Regions from separate parts of the Homo sapiens genome. Here region 2 is linked to region 1. A link means that fine-mapping ties the variant in region 1 to the plasma level of a protein whose gene starts in the linked region. Region 1 holds a variant in brackets. A gene starts in the other region. All regions are shown on one strand. Distances are between the middles of the regions.

Region 1 (9,784 bases):
AAATGGCACTTAGAATTTCCCTTGGGATAGAAGATGAGACCTTTCTTGCTAAACTTATTGCTACTGTTGGGGAAAGTAGGGGTGGTAAGAGCAAGAGGCGTTTTAAAGGAGGCGGGGACATGTCTATCACAGTTGCTGGTTCCACCTCGTACGAAATATGGTATATTGGAAACGAGAAAAAAAAAAAAACACCGTCTCCTAACTCAGAAAAAGTGGTCATGCATCAGAACCAATTAACTTTGTAACATATTCACAAACTGCCCTTCAGGCCAAAACCTAATGAAATCCCCACTTAAAACAATTCACACCTTTTCTGCTTTGAACTCCATTCTTCAGCTTTGCCGGATTTTAGAACGATTTCATCAATTCTTAAAGAGATGATTAAGCTTGAAGAACTTGACTAGCGATGGTCAAGCTCAAGAGCTCTTATTTATAGATTAAAAATTAAATGTATTCATTTATAATGTGGTTATCAAGCCAAAATATAGTTTGGGGCACCCTTTTCTAATTTCAAGGTACTCCATAAGCCTAATTATCAGAAAATTATTCCCTGACTAGAAAACCAAAAGAAAGGGTATTAGATGATCATACGTAATAAAAAGCATTAAATTGTAAGCATATGATGTTACACTTGAAGTTTATAAAACATTCCAATATTCTTCATTATATATAATCCTTACAACAACTCAGAGAAAAGTGCTATACTAGTAGTATCATTTTCTGAGTCAGTCTTGAGTGGGAATCTGGAAAAATATATCTTAACACGTTCTTCAGGTAATTGTTATGCACAACTGGGTTTGGGACCTATTGGCTATAGTGGAAAGAACCCAAGGTTTGAAGTCAGACAGATCCATGTCAACTTGCAGCTCTTTTTCTTCCTGCACTCTGATTGTGGTGAACAGGTTTTTGAACTTTTTTTTTTTTTTTTTTTTTTTGAGACCGAGTCTCTGTTGCCCAGGCTAGATTACAAAGGCGTGATCTCAGCTCACTGCAACCTCCATCTCCCGGGTTCAGGCGATTCTGGTGTCTCATCCTCCTGAGTAGCTGGGATTATAGGCGCCTGCTACCATGCCTGGCAATTTTTGTATTTTTAGTAGAGATGGGGTTTCATTCACCATATTGGCCAGGATGGTCTCGAACTTCCGACCTCAGGTGATCTGCCTGCCTAGGCTTCCCAAAATGCTGGGATTACTGGCGTGAGCCACCACGCCTGCCCGTTTTTGAACTTTTTGATTTTCAGTTCCTTTGACTGCAAATTGAGGCCAGTTTGGATTGTCTTTGTTTTTTTGTTTTTTTGTTTTTTTGTTTGTTTGTTTGCTTTTTAGACAGAGTCTCACTCTCTTGCCCAGGCTGGAGTGCAATGGTGCAATCTCGTCTCACTGCAACCTCCGCCTCCTGGGTTCAAACAATTCTCCTGCCTCAGCCTCCAGAGTAGCTGGGATTACAGGCGCACACCACGTCGCCTGGCTAATTTTTATTTTTAGTAGAGACAGGGTTTCACCATGTTGGCCAGGCTGGTCTCGAACTCCTGACCTCATGATCCGCCCGCCTCGGCCTCCCAAAGTGCTGGGATTACAAGCGTGAGCCACTGTACCTGGCTTGTGTGTGTGTGTGTGTGTGTGTGTGTGTGTGTGTGTGTGTTTTGAGATGGAGTTTCACTCTGGTTGCCCAGGCTGGAGTGCAATGGCGCAGTCACAGCTCACTGCAACCTCCGACTCCCGGGTTCAAGGGATTCTCCTTTGTCAGCTTCCCAAGTAGTTGGGATTACAGGCATGAGCTACCACGCCCGGCCTGGATTGTCTTTGGATTGTCATAATGATTCTCAGATCAAAATATTTAGAACACCTGTCATAATCCCTGATAAATATGATGAACTCTATGAATGTGAGTGCTCGTTAGTGGTAAGGTTGCATTCAAACTAGCACCCTGTACTCTGTGCAATACAGCACATTGTTGAATCTTTTTTCTCCACTATTCTGTTTCTCCCCTAGACAGTGCTAGAGGAACACTAACAGATTCGTGTACCACAGATCTTTTTTGGAATCCTTGGTGACTACTGCCCATCTGTTGGTATATATATTTACATTGTCTCCCACCTTCATTTCATTTTTTTTCTTAACATGTTAAAATGCTGAGCTGTAGACATTATTGCAGTAAAATAATGCTGATAGACGATTAGAGAGGGCACCTGTGCCTGAACTTCAAGGAGACTAAAAATTTTTATATGAATATCTCAAAGTAAAGACACCTCAAAACTCGCTCTTCACTTATATAACAATATTTCGGATGCTGTCTTCCTGGCCTCCTTCCAGTGGTTCCATAGAACCTCTACTAGCTTCATCATTTACCCTTAAAAAAGGGAGGGATTCGCTTAGGCAGAACTTCCCATAGACATCTGAAACTCAGCATTTCCAAAGCCAAGCTAATTATCCGTCCCTTCACCACTACACACAAGTACTACAGCATTCCTCTACATGGGTAGTATCACCACCATTCCAGTAACTTTGCCAGGCTACAAAACCTGTGTGAACCCGGGAGGCGGACCTTGCAGTGAGCTGAGATGGTGCCACTGCACTCCAGCCTGGGCGACAGAGCGAGACTCCATCTCAAAATAAATAAATAAATAAATAAATAAATAAATAAATAAATAAATAAAATAAATAAAAATTAAAAAATCTGTGTATGGTGTGAGGTAGGGGTTGAGATTCATTTATTTCATAATGATGTCAAGTTGATCCAACACTGTTTGTTGAACATTATTTTCCCTCTTTGAAGTACCTTGACATCTGTATTAGTTGTCTGTTACTGTATAACAAATTACCTCTAAAATTTAGCAGCTTAAAACAACAAATACTTATTACCTCATTGTTTTTGTGGTTAAGGAATCTGGGCACAGCATACCAGGTTGCCAGTGGCTCAGAGTGTCTCAAGAGGTTCCAGTCAAGCTGTTGGCCAGGGTTGTAGTCTCAACTGAAGGCTTGACTCAACGTGAGGGGAGTCTGCTTCCAAGCTCCTTTGTGCTTCTTGGCAGGCCTTGGTTCCCTGCCCCATAGGCCTCTCCACAGGCCTACCTTACAACATGGCAGCTAGCTTTACTGATAGTAAACAATCCAAGAGAGATACAGTTACCCCAAAATGTAAGCCATAGTCTCTTTTAAACCTAACTCTAGTAGTGACATCCTCTGACACCTATCAGCCCACACTCAAGAGAGATTACATATGGATGTGAATACCTGGAGGTAGGAATCATGATATTCAATGCCACGTAATCTCTATTGAGTGTGACCTGATAGATTAGGGTCCATCATTAGAGGCTGGTCCATCATAACACCTTTGTCAAAAATCAATTGTCTATATATGTTTGGGTCTATTTCTAGGTTGTATTCTGTTCAACTGACCTAATTTGTCCATTTACTACTGCTATGCTGCCTTAATTTCTGTAACTATAATATGTCTTGAGGTCGGTAGTATAGGTCCTTCAACTTATCTTTTTCAAAACTGTTTTGGCTATTCCAGGCTGCAATGCAGTGGCATGAACATGGCTCACTGCAGCCTGGACCTTGCAGGCTGAAGGAATCCTTCCACCTCAGCCTCCCAAGTAGCTAGGGTTATGCACCACCACACCTGGCTAATTTTTGAAGTTTTTTTATGGAGACAGGAGTCTCACCATGTTGCCCAGGCTAGTCTCAAACTCCTAGGCTCAAGCAATCCTCCTGCCTTGACCTTCTAAATTGCTGAGATTACAGGCGTGAGCCACTGCACTTGGCCCTTGCATTTTCATGTAAATTTTAGAATTGGCTCATCAACTTCTATGAAAATTAGGATTTTTAGTGGAATGGCATTGGATCTATAGATCAATTCATGAATAATTAATATTTTAATATTGAGACTTCTGAGTCATTAACATGTAGTCACAATACATATATCTAACAAAGGACAAAAATCCACAATATATTAAGAACCCTGTAATAGGCCAGGTGCGGTGGCTCACACCTGTAATCCCAGCAATTTGGGAGGCCGAGGCAGGTGGTCACCTGAGGTCAGGAGTTCGAGACCAGCCTGGCCAACATGGTGAAATCCCCTCTCTACTAAAAATACAGGAAAATGGCCAGGTGCAGTGGCTCACGCCTATAATCCCAGCACTTTGGGAGGCCGAGGCAGGTGGATCTCCTGAGGTCAGGAGTTCAAGACCAGTCTGGCCAACCTGGTGAAACCCGGTCTCTACTAAAAATACAAAAATTAGCTGGGCATGTTGGCAAGCACCTGTAATCCCAGCTACTCTGGAGGCTGAGGCAGGAGAATCTCTTGAACCCGGGAGGCGGAGGTTGCAGTGAGCCAAGATTGCGCCATTGCACTCCAGCCTGGGGGACAAGAGTGAGACTTCCTCTAAAACAAAAAAAAAAAACAACAACAACAACAAGAAAAACTAGCCGGGCGTGGTGGCAGGAGCCTATAATCCCAGTTACAAGAGAGGCTGAGCAGGAGAATCACTCAAACCTGGGAGGCAGAGGTTGCAATGATCTGAGATCGTGCCACTGCACTCCAGCCTGGGCGACAGTGAGACTCTGTCTTAAAAAAAATAAATAAATAAAAAACCCTGTAATAATAATAAAACAAAAATCCAATTTTTTTTTTTTTTTTGGAGACAGGGTTTCACTCTGTCACCCAGGCTGGAGGGCAGTTGCAAGATCACAGCTGCTTAGCTCACTGCAGCCTCAACCTCCTGGGCTCAAGTAATCCTCCCACCTCAGCCTCCCACTTACTAGGGAGTAAGTGGGACTACAGGCATGCAGCACCACCCCGGCTAATTTTTTGTATTTTTTGTAGAGATAGGGTTTGGCCATGTTGCCCAGGCTGACCAATATATTTTTCTCATTTTTTTTTCTTTTTTTCAGACAGATTCTTGCTCTGTCACCCAGGCTGGAGTGCAGTGGCACAATCTCGGCTTACTGCAACCTCTGCTTCCCAGATTCAAGCGATTCTCCTGCCTCAGCCTCCCTAGTAGCTGGGATTACAGGCTCCTGCTACCACGCCTGGCTAATTTTTGTATTTTTAGTAGAGACAGGGGTTTCACCTTGTTGGTCAGGCTGGTCTCGAACTCCTGCCTTCAGG[T/G]TGATCCACCTGTCTCTGCCTCCCAAAGTTCTGAGATTATAGGCATGAGCCACCACACCCAGCCCACAGGCCTTTTTTTCTTTTTCTTTTTCTTTTTTTTTTTCAGATGGAGTCTCGCTCTGTCACCCATGCTGGAGTGCAGTGGTGCGATCTCAGCTCACTGCAACCTCTGCCTCCTGGGTTCAAGAGATTCTCCTGCCTCAGCCTCCTGAGTAGCTGGGACTACAGGCGTGTGCCACTCCACCTGGCTAATTTTTTGTATTTTTAGTAGAGACAGGGTTTCACCATGTTAGCCAGGATGGTTTTGATCTCCTGACCTGATGATCCACCTGCCTCGGCCTCCCAAAGTTCTGGGATTACAGGCATGAGTCACTGCGCCTGGCCCCCTTTTTGTCTTATTATATATTTTGCTCTACGTATTCAGAGAAACTTCTCTAGTAACAAACTATAGAAATGATTCCTGAAAGTGTAGTCTTGGCCAATATATATATTTTTTTAAAGAATTCAATTGGCTTTATTGCAGTTTTGTTTTTTGAGTTTTTTGGTTTTGTTTTTTTTTTTTTTGAGAGACGGAATTTCGTTCTTGTTGCCCAGGCTGGAGTGCAATGGCACGATCTCAGCTCACCGCAATCTCCACTTCCGAGGTTCAAGCGATTCTCCTGCTTCAGCCTCCCTAGTAGCTGGGATTACAGGCATGTGCCACCACGCCAGGCTAATTTTATATTTTTAGTAGAGACAGGGTTTCTCCATGTTGGTCAGGCTGGTCTCGAACTCCTGATCTCAGGTGATCCGCCCGCTTCGGCCTCCCAAAGTGCTGGGATTACAGGCATGAGCCACCATGCCCAGCCTGTTGCAGTTCTAGAATCAGGAAATAATTCATTCCATAAAACAGAAAGTGTTCAATGGCCAATATTTTTTAAATGAGTAAACGAACTGACATTTTACCAAAGAAAATCTACAAGTGGTCAATAAACATATGAAACATGCATAACACCACCAGTTATTAGGGAAATACAAATTAAAACCACAAAGAGATACCAGTTCACATCCTCTACAATGTCTAAAATTAACAAGACTGACAAGGTCAGACGTGGTGGCTCATGCCTATAATTCCAGCACTTTGGGAGGCCAATGCGGACAAATCACCTGAGGTCAGGAGGTCGAGACCAACCTGGCCAACATGGTAAAACCCCGTCTCTACTAAAAATACAAAAGTTAGCCAGGTGTGGTGGTGGGCACCTATAATCCCAGCTACAGAGGCTGAGGCAGGAGAATCACTTGAACCCAGGAGGCGGAGGTTGCAGTGAGCCAAGATTACACCATTGCACTCCAGCCTGGGCAACAAGAGCAAGACTCCATCTCAAAAATAAATAAATAAATAATAAAAAGACTGACAATAACAAGTGTTGGCTAGGATTTGTAGCAACTAAAACTCTCATACATTGCTGCTGGGAGTATAAACTGCTACAATTCGGCCTAGGCAACATAGTGAGACCCCATCTCTACAAAAAAATTTAAAAATTAGCCAGGAGTGGTGGTGTGCACCTGTGATCCCAGCTACTTGGGAGGCTGAAGTCGAAGGATCTCTTGAGCCTAGGAGATTCAGGCTGCAGTGAGGTAGGATTGCACTGCTTTACTTCATCCTAGACAACAGAGTGAAAGCCCATCTCTATTAAAAAATCGTACAATTGGTCAGACGCAGTGACTCACACCTGTAATCCCAGCACTTTGGGAGGGTGAGGCGGGTGGATCACCAGAGGTCAGGAGTTCGAGACCAGCCTGGTCAACATGGCAAAACCTTGTCTCTACTAAAAAATACAAAAATTAGCCAGGCGTGATGGCAGGCGCCTATAATCCCAGCTACTCAGGAGGCTGAGGCAGGAGAATCACTTGCACCCGGGGGAAAGAGTTTGCAGTGAGCCAAGATCACGCCACTTTATTCCAGCCTGGATGAAAAGCAAAACTCCATCAAAAAAAAAAAAAAAGAAAAGGGTACAACCCTTTGGATAACAGCTTGACAATTGTTTATAAATTTAACATATACTTACTCTATCACCTAGCAATTTAACTCCTAGGTATTTACTCAAGAGAAATGAAAACATATATCCACAAAAAACTTTGTATCTTTCTTTGAGACAGAGTCTCACTCTGTTGCCCAGGCTGGAATGCGGTAGCGTGATCACAGCTCATTGCACTCTCAACCTCCAGGATCAAGCAATCCTCCAGCCTCAGCCTCCCAAGTAGCTGTGACTACAGGTGTGCGCCACCACATCCAGCTAAAATTTCTTTTATTTTTAGTAGAGACAAGGTATTGCTATGTTGCTCAGACTGGTCTGGAACTCCTGAGCTCAAACAATACACCCACCTCGGCCTCCCAAAATGCTAGGATTACAGGCCTGGGCCACTGTGCCCAGCACACAAAAAACTATTGTATTAAAAATTTTATAACAGCTTTATTCATAATAACCAAAAACTAGAAACAACTCAAATGTCCATCAACAGATAAATAAGTAAACAAATTGATTATCAATGGACTATATTCAGCAATAAAAAAAAGAATGGAGTTCTGGAGTTTGTCAATAAAAAGGAATGAACTGCTGATATATCAACAATATAGTTGAATGGCTGGGTGCAGTGGCTCAGGCCTGTAATCCCAACACTTTGGGAGGCTGAGGTGGAAGTATCACTTGAGCCCAGGAGTTCAAGACCAACCTGGGCAACATAGTGAAACCCCCCAGCCATCTCTATTTAAAAAAAAAAAAAAGGAAAAAACAATATAGATGAATCTCAAAACACATAATAAGCAAAAAAAGCCAGACATATATTAAAACACAGTGTATGATTCCATTCTGTAGGACATTCTAGAACAGACAAAATTAATCTATGATGTGGTGGAATAAAGATGGCCCATCTTTGTCACTCTCCCCACTGAAAAGTGGAATTTATTTTTCCATCCCCTTGAATTTCTTCTAGGCTCATGCCTGCTTTGGTCAGTAGAATACAGCTGAAGTGATGTTGTACCAGTTTTGCGTCTGGTCTTTACAAGCACTGGTAGCTTCAACTTTCTCCTTCTTGGTACTCACCCACCATGTTGTAAGGAAACCCAAACAGCCACGTGGAAGACAGTTCTAGTTGAGCTCCCAGCCCAGAGCCTATCCCAACTCTCCAGCCATGTAAGTGAAGTGAATTCTCCAGCCCCAGTCAAGCTACCCCAGGTGACCCACAAAGCAGACAAATTGATTCCACTAAACCATGACCAAATTGCAAAATCATGAGCAAATAAATGATTTTTATTCTTTTTTTTTTTTTTTTTTTTTTGAGACAGAGTCTCGCGCCGCCCAGGCTAGAGTGCAATGGCGCGATCTCAGCTCACTGCAACCTCCACCTCTTGGGTTCAAACGATTGTCCTCCCTCAGCCTCCCGAGTAGCTGGGATTACAGGCGCCTGCCACCACGCCCAGCTAATTTTTGTATTTTTAATAGAGACAGGGTTTCGCCACGTTGGCCAGGCTGGTCTTGAAGTCCTGACCTCGTGTTCCACCCACCTCGGCCTCCCAAAGTGCTGGGATCATAGGCATGAGCTACCGCGCCCAGCCAATGATTTTTATTCTTTTAAGCCACTGGGTTTTGGGGTGACAAAACGATCTACAGATACAACAATCTATAACCAAAACATACGGGAGTAGAAATCACAACAATATTACCTGTGGGAAGAGGCAGAATCAACGACAAAGGGGCACAAGAGGACTTAGAGGTGACAGAAATGTTCTGTATCAGCTAGGCACAGTGGCTCACACCTGTAATCCCAGCATTTTGGGAGGCTGAGGCTGGAGGATCACATAAGCCCAGGGGTCTGAGACCAGACTGGATGACATAGTGAGACCTCATCTCTGCAAAAAATAAAATTAGCTGGGTGTGGTGGCACACACCTGTAGTCCCAGCTACTGGGGAGGCTAAGGTGGGAGGATAACTTGAATCCAGGAGGTTGAGGCTACAGTGAGCTGAGATCATACCACTGCACCCCAGCCTGGGCAACACAGTTAGACCCTGTCTCAAAAAAAAAAAAGGTTATCTATCTTGATTAGGGTAATGGTTATACAAATGTATGCATTTATCAAAACTCTGAACTGTATACTTAAAATCTATATATTATATTGTATGTAAATTATGCCTTAATGAAGTTGATTTTTTAAAAAAGGCCAGGCGTGCGCGGTTGCTCTCACCTGTAATCCCAGCACTTTGGGAGGCGAGGCGGTTGGATCATGAGGTCAGGAGATTGAGACCATCTGGCTAACACGGTGAAACCCCGTGTCTACTAAAAATACAAAAAAATTAGCCGGGCATGGTGGCGGGCGCCTGTAGTCCCAGCTACTCGGAGGCTAAGGCAGGAGAATGGTGTGAACCCGGGAGGCGGAGCTGGCAGTGAGCCGAGATCGCGCCACTGCACTCCAGCCTGGAGGACAGAGCGAGACTCCGTCTCAAAAAAAAAAAAGGCCAGGCGCGGTGGCTCACGCCTGTAATCCCAACACTTTGGGAGGCCGAGGCGAGCGGATCACGAGGTCAGGAATTCAAGACACATCTGGTCAACATAGTGAAACCCCGTCTCTACTAAAAATACAAAAAATTAGCCGGGTGTGGTGGTGTGCGCCTGTAATCTCAGCTACTCGGGAGCC
Region 2 (9,784 bases), 27 Mb before region 1:
TCCCTTATTCTACAGCAGTTAAGTACTAAAGTAAGAATTAATAACTGAAAGCTGTAATAATGCAAGAACTACCAGTTAAAATATCCAACACCTTCAAATTAAAATGAACTTTTATGAAGGTTAAAATTTTAAAACGAACTGAGCTGGAGTACTGTATTTCCAACTCAAAGTAGTAATAATTGTGCTTAATTACTGAGGTGTACTCAAGGAATGGTCATAAAAGGAAATATTAAATCTTCTTATTCATCCAGCAATTTTCTTATAATTTATTATTACACAAATCTTAATTTTTGCTGACAGGTAAATAAACAAGTAATTATGTTCATATTAATCAAGTGTTCCAGTTAAAGAAATGTAACTTTATGGCTTTACACTTCCTGCTATTCATGTTCTTGGGTAGTGTCTTCTGACATTGGATATGGGCTTGCCCCATGTGACTTGTCTTGGCCTATAGGACATTAGCAAGTCTGATACAGTGTAGGCTTCGTAAGAGCATCCATGTTGGGGCTTATAAATCTCCTTCTTGGAAGCAAGCTGCCATGGTGTAAAGAAACTTGGGCTAGAGTACTGAAAGATGAGAAGTCATGTAAAGACCCTGGAGGATGAGAGGCCATCTGGGATGTTCCTATCCATTTGAACTTCCAGCTGAATGCAGCTGCATGAGTGACCTCAGCTATACCATATGAAGCAGAGCTGCCCAGCTGAGTCTAGTGAACCCATAGAATCATGAAAAATGATAAATTTGGGGAGCAGTCATTTTTGCCACAATACACAACCAAAATAGCCTTATTAAATTATGTTACAATTCTAGTGCGGATAAAGAGTTAAAAATCAAGATGCATCCTATGAGTAATGTTATAATTGAAACCAAAATAAACTCATTATTTTAAATCTTTCTCTTCTAGTTCTGTTCACTAAAATGACAAAAATAACAATATTTCCCCACTGCAGTAGTCTAGTATGTATCGCAGGCACTTTGGTCTCTCATACCATGTTCTCCATCCCCTTGGAAAGACAGTTAATTCCATTCAGAGTGAGAAAGATAGAGTGGGAAAGACACAAAGTGGGCTTGGAACAATCAGTTAACATCAGAAAACAAGAAGTCTTTAAAAATATATGGGATCCTATCAAAAGAACAAGAGAAGACAGCTTACAATGGCTCCAAATGGTCAAGGTATGAATATTTGAGGCTCGGAAAAAACTATACTTAGGTTAAATAAATTGTGTGTTTTTAAAATGCTTCAAATATATAGTGATACTAAAAAAAAAAGAAAATATTTTCTTTTCAAATAACTAGTATTTTATTTGGAGATAAAAAATGTTGCTTAAGTTTAATTTCACATATATTATCAAGAGATTAAAGTATATCCATTTAAGGGATAATATGATCAACAGAACAGAAAGACAGGACTTTTTTCCCCCATAAAACATCAATGGACAGGCTAATGAAACTTCCTGCTACTCCCCCACAGAATACTCTCTTGACACTTGCCTATTGGATGACATGCTCCTCATTATCTCAAACATTAACAAAGTGTGTCATGACAGTTTATTCACAGGTTTGAGAGACCTTTTAAATGCTGTAGCCTTGGGCACTAGCTAAGTGAACTTGCAGCACCAGAACTCAGTGAACTTTACCTTTAGAATGTATTTGAAATAAAAGAATATTCTTTTCCTCTTAATTTATTTGGTGATAGATTCAAACAATTGTTGCTGGTTGCTGCCTTATTGTTTCCCTTACCTTCTGTGGTTCATTAGGACAAAATCCTTCCTAAACACAATGACAGAAGCCAAAGACTGATACATTGAGCCTTCTTATAATACCAATCTAGAAATAAGAGCTTTTGTAATCCTAGACTAACCCTATTTTTCCTAGTCTATACCAAGAGATGATCTAGAGGAAATAATTTATTTGGGAGATACCCCAAAATTAATATTTTAATTTTATTTATACTTATTATGCAAAGTTTGAATCATTTAAAAATTAACATATATTAATATTAAATTAATATTAACACACTTTAATTTTAATTAGTTTGCACTGCCAGCCCATGAATATTTGATGACTTAAAATTTAAAAAGGCCAATTATATAATTTTAATAGTAGTTGATATTATTTAAATATGTAACTATTATGTTAATATTACTTTAGAAGTTACTGTGCTTTTTTTTTTTTTTGAGACAAGGTCTCACTCTGTCAGCCAGGCTGGAATGCAGTGGCGCCATCTCAGCTCACTGCAACCTCTACCTCCTGGGCTCAGGTGATCCTCCCACCTCAGCCTCCCGAATAGCTGGGACTACAGGCCTGCCCCACCACATCTGGCTAATTTTTGTATTTTTTGTAAAGACGGGGTTTCGCCATGTTGCCCAGCCTGGTCTTGAATTTCTGGGCTCAGGTGATCTGCCCGCCTCAGCCTCCCAAAGTGCTGGGATTACAGGTGTAAGACACCGTGCCCGGCCTGTGCATTTTTTTTTTTTTAAAGCAAAAAGAATTCTCATTAAAAAGTAAAGTAAGTTGCACAGTGCAAATACATTAAAGAGGGAATACATTAAATACTTTCCCATTCAAAAATTTAAAAATGGCAAAGTATTTAAAACTATGGAAAAATCAGGTAGAGGAAACTGAATGTATAAAAATTTTATATAGTAAAACGTTGTTTCTCCAGCACCATCAGGATGTGTGTGTGTGTATGTAAAGGAGTGCCGACTTCTGTATACCCAAGCTGCATTTATGTCTAACTGAATTTAGATTAAACAAATACTAGCTAAGCTTGGATTGGGCCTGTTAGAAAGGTATAGGCAGATACAAGAAGTACTGAGGTTTTCAATAAATGCAATTACTTAATACACCCGTGATGTTTGCGTAATAACCTCAAAACTGTCTAGTAGTCTAGAAAAAATGTGTCAAAGCTGCACTTTTCATTATAAAAACCTATGTACCTTATCTTTTGCATCTCGCCAACAATTGTTTGAATAGTGGCCATATAAAAGAATGCATAGCTGATTTACATCAAGCTCAATGATATACGCATTTTGGTATACTTATTTTAAAAACAAAATTAAAATTAGAGAAAAAGTAGAGAGACAGATACAGAGAAAGCAGCCATGTACCACTGCCTGCTCTATATATTCCTTAATCCACTTCTGTAGAAGAAAGGTAATTACATATTCCAAGACATCTTCTATGATTACAACCTGTATATAGTTTCCTTATGTCTTATAACATCTATATATTCAACACAAAATCACTCCTTTTTTCTGGGAAGCGTCTTTTCATTTCCTACAACCCTTTTCTTTCTTCCCAAGAAAGATTAGGGAATAGGGTGCTAAGAAAGACAACAGGCTGGCTGGGCACAGTGGCTCAAGCCTGTAATCCCAGCACTTTGCAAGGCCGAGGCGGATGGATCATTTGAGGTCAGGAGCTCGAGACCAGCCTGGCCAACATGGTGAAACCCCGTCTCTACTAGAAATACAAAAATTAGCCAGGCGGTAGTGGCGTGCGCCTATAATCCCAGCTACTCAGGAGGCTGAGGTGGGAGAATCCCTCGAGCCTGGGAGGCAGAGGTTGCGGTGAGCCGAGATCGGGCCACTGCACTCTAGTCTGAGCTAGAGAGTGAGACCCTGTCTCAGGCAAAAAAAAAAGGGGGGGAAAAGGGAAGGGGAGGGGGAGGGGAAAATTATGGTGTTAGGCAAGAGACTGCACTGAGTTAAGTGGGTGTCCAGGGACTCCTACCTAGCAGTCCCAGAGTGTACTGTGTGACAGTGTTAAAGTCACTTCAGTTAAAGTCTCCATATATGTTAGTCACTTGTGACTTGCTGATCTACAACTACCAAAATGCAATAACTGGTGTTAGTAATAATGATCATCAGACATCAAGAAAAGATAGTAGCATCTTCATTATGTTCTGGTCCTCTATGTCAAGGAAGAAAAATTTTACAAAACTTTTTATTAAAAACAGCTACAAATCATAAATGCTAGTATTTAAAGAGCTAACTTTAGTTACCTAGAACTTCATCTAGAACTTTTCCCATTACTATTCATAATTTAGATTGTGTTGTATTTTCAGTTTTTAAATTTGATTTTTAACTAAGATCGTTTAGCAATTCTGAAAAATAGATTTGCATAATCAGCATGCACGATAGCGCTTTTTTTACACCTGTTAAATTGTATTTATTGATTTAAGTGAAACCAAACTCCAACATTACTAAATGCCACAATGAACTACAGTTAGACTAAATGGGGAAGCCTCACCTACCTGACTTAAATACTAAGTGCCTTAAGGTGCCCACATGATATTGTTAATATAGTAAAGTCTTAGCACCCCTGAATTTGACCTTATTGGTTTTCAGCTTTCGGGGAGGGACAAAAATTGCTCCTTGGCAGGTCTTAAGTTATAATCCTGCTTAACTAAGGCTTTGAATGCCGTGTGCGCAAGCATGCTCTCTGGGAGCGCATCCTCAGGTGAGTGTCCCAGACCGCGACCCACAATCCACATGCTCTCCAAATTTTACCGTACGGGTCAACCTTTTTTTCTGTACAGGGCCAGAGAGTAAATACTTCAGTCTTTGCAGACCAGACTGTGTGGCAACCACTTAACCCCGTTGTTCTAACGTGGGAAAGCAGCCATGGGCAATACGTAAAGGAATGAGCGTGGTGGTGTGCCAGTAAAACTTTATTCACGAACAATGAAATGTGAGCGTCATGCTTTTCCACAAGTCATGAAAGAGTACATTTCATATTTACTTTGAAAATGCAAAAATAGAACATCACACACCAGGGCCTGCCGTGGGGTGGGGGGAGGGGGGAGGGATAGCATTAGGAGATATACCTAATGTAAATGACAAGTTATGGGTGCAGCACACCAATATGGCACATGGATACATATGTAACAAACCTGCACGCTGTGCACATGTACCCTAGAACTTAAAGTATAATAATTAAAAAAAAAGGAAGAAAATGTAAAAATCATTCCTAGCTGGCCAGCAGCTGTCACACGACCCCTGCACGGTCACACGCCCAATGGCTGGGGAAGGATCGGGTGGGCAGAGGAAGGCCTCCGGTGAGGTGAGGGGGTTCCACCCGCGCCCACGGCCCGCAGGCGCTTCCCGTCTCATCTGGGCCGCGCCGCCTCAGTTGCTGCGTTCCCTGACCAGGAGAGGAGAGGGACACCCCTCGGCGTCGAGGCCAGGACCCCGGACAGTGGGGGAGGGAGGCATGTAGGACCAGGGAGAAGGAAGGGCCAGGCTTCGAGGTCGCGGAGCTCGGGAAGTTCCCCCAGGGTGTCCCCGGTCCGCTGCCTCCTCAGGCCCGTCACTCACTCGGATAAGCCGGCACAGACGAAGGCCATAGCAAAAGCGCAACTAGAAGGACTAAGGGCTTCATAGGCGTCGTCCGTAGCACTCTGCCATGCGACCGGAACGTCCTGGGGCCACCAGGCTGGGAACCTCAAGGCCGAAAGGGAAGGTGTCAGCGGAGTACCGTCCTGCCTCAGGCCCTGGGACACCCAGCAACGGTTGTCCCCAGCGCGCAAGCGCAGCGGCATGGGGGAGGGGAGAGCGAGCGGCCAAGGCCCGCCCCTCCTGGGACCGCGTGCAGGGGGCGGGGGATCGCGCGCGCCCCGCCCCGCCCCTTCCTAGTGCGCATGCTCGCTCCGCCTTCGTAGGTCCGCGCCTGGTGTGGGCTGGGAACGCCTCGACGCCCGGCTACTGCGTGCGGGGTGCTGCCTCGGGGCGTGCGGGGCTCGGCCCATCCTGCGCGGTAGGGATACCGCCGTGGTTTAAACGCGGTCCCTGTGAGGAAGGAACTGTAATGGGAGAGGCAGATAACCTGGCAATTACCACAGCGTGAAAGGGGGCTGTAGTGGGGGAAGCGCTAGGTACTGTTGTGCACAGTGGAAACCCACCCCCGGAAGCGGGTGGGGAGCTTGGCTAAGTGGAGGACAGCTTGGAGCACCCCAAGAACTGAGCATAGTTCCGGCGAGTTGCATTGTGGGGCTTGGGAGGGCAGTTGTTGGAGGACAGGGAGGAGAGGTAGGCAAGGGCATTAAAAACGCCCTAAGGGGCTTGGGTGTTTTTGTTTTTCAAAAGATCACATTCCATTTCTTTGACCTTCTTAAAAAGATAGGGGTAGGGATGAGGGAGAGTACGACTATGAAAGGATAGCATGAGGTTGTTTTGGGGACTAATAGATGGCAGTGGCCACAAGAATCTATACATGTGTTAAAATTCACAGAAGGCCGGGCACGGTGGCTCACTCCTGTAATCCCAGCACTTTGGGAGGCCGAGGTGGGCGGACCACCTGAGGTCAGGAGTTCGAGACCAGCCTGACCAACATAGTGAAACTTCGTGGCTACTAAAAATACAAAATTAGCCAGGCGTGGGTGGTGGCACACGCCTGTAGTCCCAGCTACTTGGGAGACTGAGGCAGGAGAATCACTTGAACCCGGGAAGCAGAGGTTGCAGTGAGCCGAGATCGTGCCACTGCACTCCAGCCTGGGCGACAGAGCAAGACTCCACCTCAAAAAAATAAATAAAAATAAAAATTCGCAGAACTGCACATCCCAAAGAATCTGTTTTTCTGTATGGTTATTTTTAAAAATTCACGTACACTCATCTCTGCCTCAGGAAGCAAGGGGCTTGGATTTTAGTCTGAGGCACCAGTACTAGAGTACTGCTAGGTTTTGAGCTGGGAACGGTTGTGATTAGATTTGTATTCCAGAAAACTCACTCTTCCTGTAGCATGAAGAATGGACTGGAGGGAAGCAAGACTAGAGGCGCCGGCGGAAACTGAGACTGCGCACGGCGCTTGCGGGCCAGCCCGAGTTCCGGGTGGGCGTGGGCTCGGCGGGCTCGGTGGGCCCGGCACTCAGCGCGGCCGGCCGTCCCCGCTGGCCACGGGCAGTTGGGGGGAGCTTAGCACCTGGGCCAGGAGCTGCTGTGCTCGATTTCTCGCCAGGCCTTAGCTGCCTCCCCGCAGGGCAGGGCTCGGGACCTGCAGCCTGCCATGCCTGAGCCTCCCTGAGGAGCGCCGCTCCCTGCTCCACGGCGCCCAGTCCCATCGACCGCCCAAGGGCTGAGGAGTGCGGGCGCAGGGCCGGGGACTGGCAGGCAGCTCCACCTGCGCCTGGGTGTGGGATCCACTGGGTGAAGCCAGCTGGGCTCCTGAGTCTGGTGGGGACTTGGAGAACCTTTATGTCTAGCTAAGGGATTGTGAATGCACCAATGGGCACTCTGTGTCTAGCTCAAGGTTTGTAAATGCACCAATCAGCACCCCGTGTCTAGCTAATCTAGTGGGGACTTGGAGAACTTTTGTGTCTAGCTCAGGGATTGTAAATGCACCAATCAGCACCCTGTCAAAACGGACCAATCAGCTCTCTGTAAAGTGAACCAATCAGCAGGATGTGGGTGGGGCCAGATAAGGGAATAAAAGCAGGCTGCCCGAGCCAGCAGTAGTAACCCTATGGAGTCTCTTTCTGTCGTGTGGAAGGTTTGTTCTTTCGCTTTTTGCAATAACTCTTGCTGCTGTTTACTCTGGGCCCACACTGCCTTTATAAGCTGTAACACTCGCTGCGAAGGTCTGCCGCTTCACTCCTGAAGCCAGTGAGACCACGAACCCACCGGGATGAATGAACAACTCAGATGGGCCACCATAAGAGCTGTAACACTCACCATGAGGGTCTACAGCTTCACTCCTGGTCCAGCTAGACCACGAATCCACCAGAAGGAAGAAACTCCAAACACATCCGAACATCAGAAGGAACAAATTCCGGACATGCTGCCTTTAAGAACTGTGACACTCACCACGAGGATCCACGGCTTCATTCTTTAAGTTAGACCAAGAACCCACCAATTCCGGACACATGTTGAGGAACCAATGTCTCCAGCCAACAGCCAGTAAGGACCTGAGGCCTGACAACAATCAGGTGAGTGAACTTGGTAATAGATTCTCCCCAGGTGAGCCTGGAGTTGACCACAGCCCGGCTGACATCTTGATTGTAGCTGCCTGAGAAACCCAGAGATGGAGGCACCCAGCTAAGCCACGCTTAGATTCCTGACTCACAGAAACTGTAAGACAGTAAGTGCTTGTTAAATGGAGGAGGAGAAAGCATTTGCGTAAGCAATAGCTACATACAAGGGTCTCTGTTGATTTGTTCCTTGAAAGAGACCATGCTTGGAAAGGCACCTGCAGTTGGGTACACTACTTAATTGAGTTAATAATTGTCAGTCATTCTTCCAGGTCCATCTGTTTTCATTACCAGTCAAGCTGGAAGGCAGGTATAAATTAAGATAATTGATTCAGATATTTTAGGGTGACACTATAGCTAGTCAACAAGGGATTGTTATAACTTGTGCATTACTATTTTGATTGGGGGTTGGAGAGTGTAATAAAGCTCTGTGGATTCTTCATAGTCTTTTCTATCTTGCTCACCCTTGTTCTAAAGGTTAGGAAACCAATGTGAAGATTCTGCCTTATGTCCTTTAAATGTACACTCAGGAATTGGGGAAAAAACACTGGAAGGGTTTAGGGTTCCATCGAACTTACTGTAAGGTGGACTTGGGTTAAAATTCCTTTAATTACTTCACCCCTGTAAACCCCACTCTAACCAGTGAACTACTGTGGCATACTGCGATTTTCCTTTTTTTTCAGTGCATATTTATCCCTAGATGATCACTGGTCCCTTTGGAGAAGGCTAGGAGTTAAGAATCACAGCACATACTTATCTCATTGTATTACTACTGAATTCGTCAAGGGTTTCCTGCTTTCCCTTCACTTAGGAGACTGGATTTGTGAAACACACTGCAGTTTGGGGATTGAATGAGGAACTGCAAGTGAGAGGTTCAAGTAGGATGTCTTTTAGGCCCAGAGTTGGAGTCGTTTTTCCCTTGTTTGGTTATAAAAACCCCAATAAGACTTTAGCAGTTTTCATCTTGTTAACCATTAAAAAGGAAACGGTGAAATAGCCAAGGTATATCCTAATTGTGGAATTCCAGTTTAAAAAAAAAAATGTTGTAGCTCTGTACTCCATGGTCTATGTGCTAACATATAAAATTCTCTAAAATATGGTGTTGAGTAAAAAAGTTCAGAAAAACACATATATCCACTTATGCAAAATTACACCAGTTACATATTTCCATGAATTCATCTGAAATCATTCTGGAAGGAAACACAGTAAGCTGATAATAGTGCTTACTTCCAGAAAGAGAAATGAGATTGGAGGAGAACAGGGGATTTTGAAGGGAGAATTTTGCTTTTTACTTTTTCTTATCCCTTGAATTTTTTGAAGCAAGATTACTCATGTAATTAAAAATAGAAACAGTAACTTTTTACAAAATCTAGTGAAGAAAGGAGGGCTAGTGGTAGAAATGTCTTATTATGCCTCATGTTTTCCTTTACTGACTTCACTGAAATATTTTTGAAGTGGCTAATTCACTACCCAGAGAAAAGTAGCCTGCATTTCTGCTTCACCTCTGGATTCTGTAGACTGTTTTGATAGGTAATCAAACAGTATCATTTACTGTTATGACTTTTTTTCAGGGATGTATTTTATCTCCCCTTTATAGTTGTTTTTATGCTGTCTATTTTACACAACACCTTGCTGGTGCTCAATAAAGACTTAATAAATAGCAACACATGCTCTTCCAACCTAAAGGAAAAGAATCCTTCCCCACTTTCCCCCACCCTCTTCCCCTAGAGCTGTCAAAATTCTGTTTCAAGGCTCAAATGCCACATCTGCTGGGAATCTCCCCTCCATCATCCCTCCAGTTAGAATGTATCATATCTTCC

Direction of the effects. Positions count from the first base shown, and alleles are read on the strand shown. Strength reflects both the effect of a copy and how common the allele is.
For the plasma level of the protein whose gene starts at base 5,512 in region 2, allele T in region 1 goes with a higher level than allele G (moderate association).

Evidence for each region. A credible set is the group of variants that fine-mapping cannot tell apart. PIP is the posterior inclusion probability: the model's chance that the variant is causal. The UK Biobank Pharma Proteomics Project read protein levels with antibody pairs (Olink). The fine-mapping took linkage between variants from a reference panel, not from the people measured, so its PIPs are less certain.
Region 2: it holds the start of SPESP1, and the variant in region 1 is the best candidate, but not a certain one, in a credible set for the plasma level of the SPESP1 protein (UK Biobank, PIP 0.79).

Annotation. Positions count from the first base shown.
Region 1 is chr15:41,611,036-41,620,819 of GRCh38, reverse strand. LOC105370791 (a long non-coding RNA gene) reads left to right here. Exons shown (of 4, transcript NR_188233.1): 2 at 8,086-8,285. It also overlaps the pseudogene LOC124903614. Among named protein-coding and RNA genes, the nearest start is that of MGA, 44 kb to the left of the region's middle. The variant T/G (reference allele first, on the strand shown) is at 5,113.
Region 2 is chr15:68,926,253-68,936,036 of GRCh38, reverse strand. SPESP1 (sperm equatorial segment protein 1) reads right to left here and starts at 5,512. Exons shown (of 2, transcript NM_145658.4): 1 at 5,320-5,512. The coding sequence starts at 5,383. It overlaps SPESP1-NOX5 (SPESP1-NOX5 readthrough), which reads right to left and starts at 5,512. Exons shown (of 17, transcript NR_033672.2): 1 at 5,320-5,512. RefSeq lists a silencer at 8,636-8,836.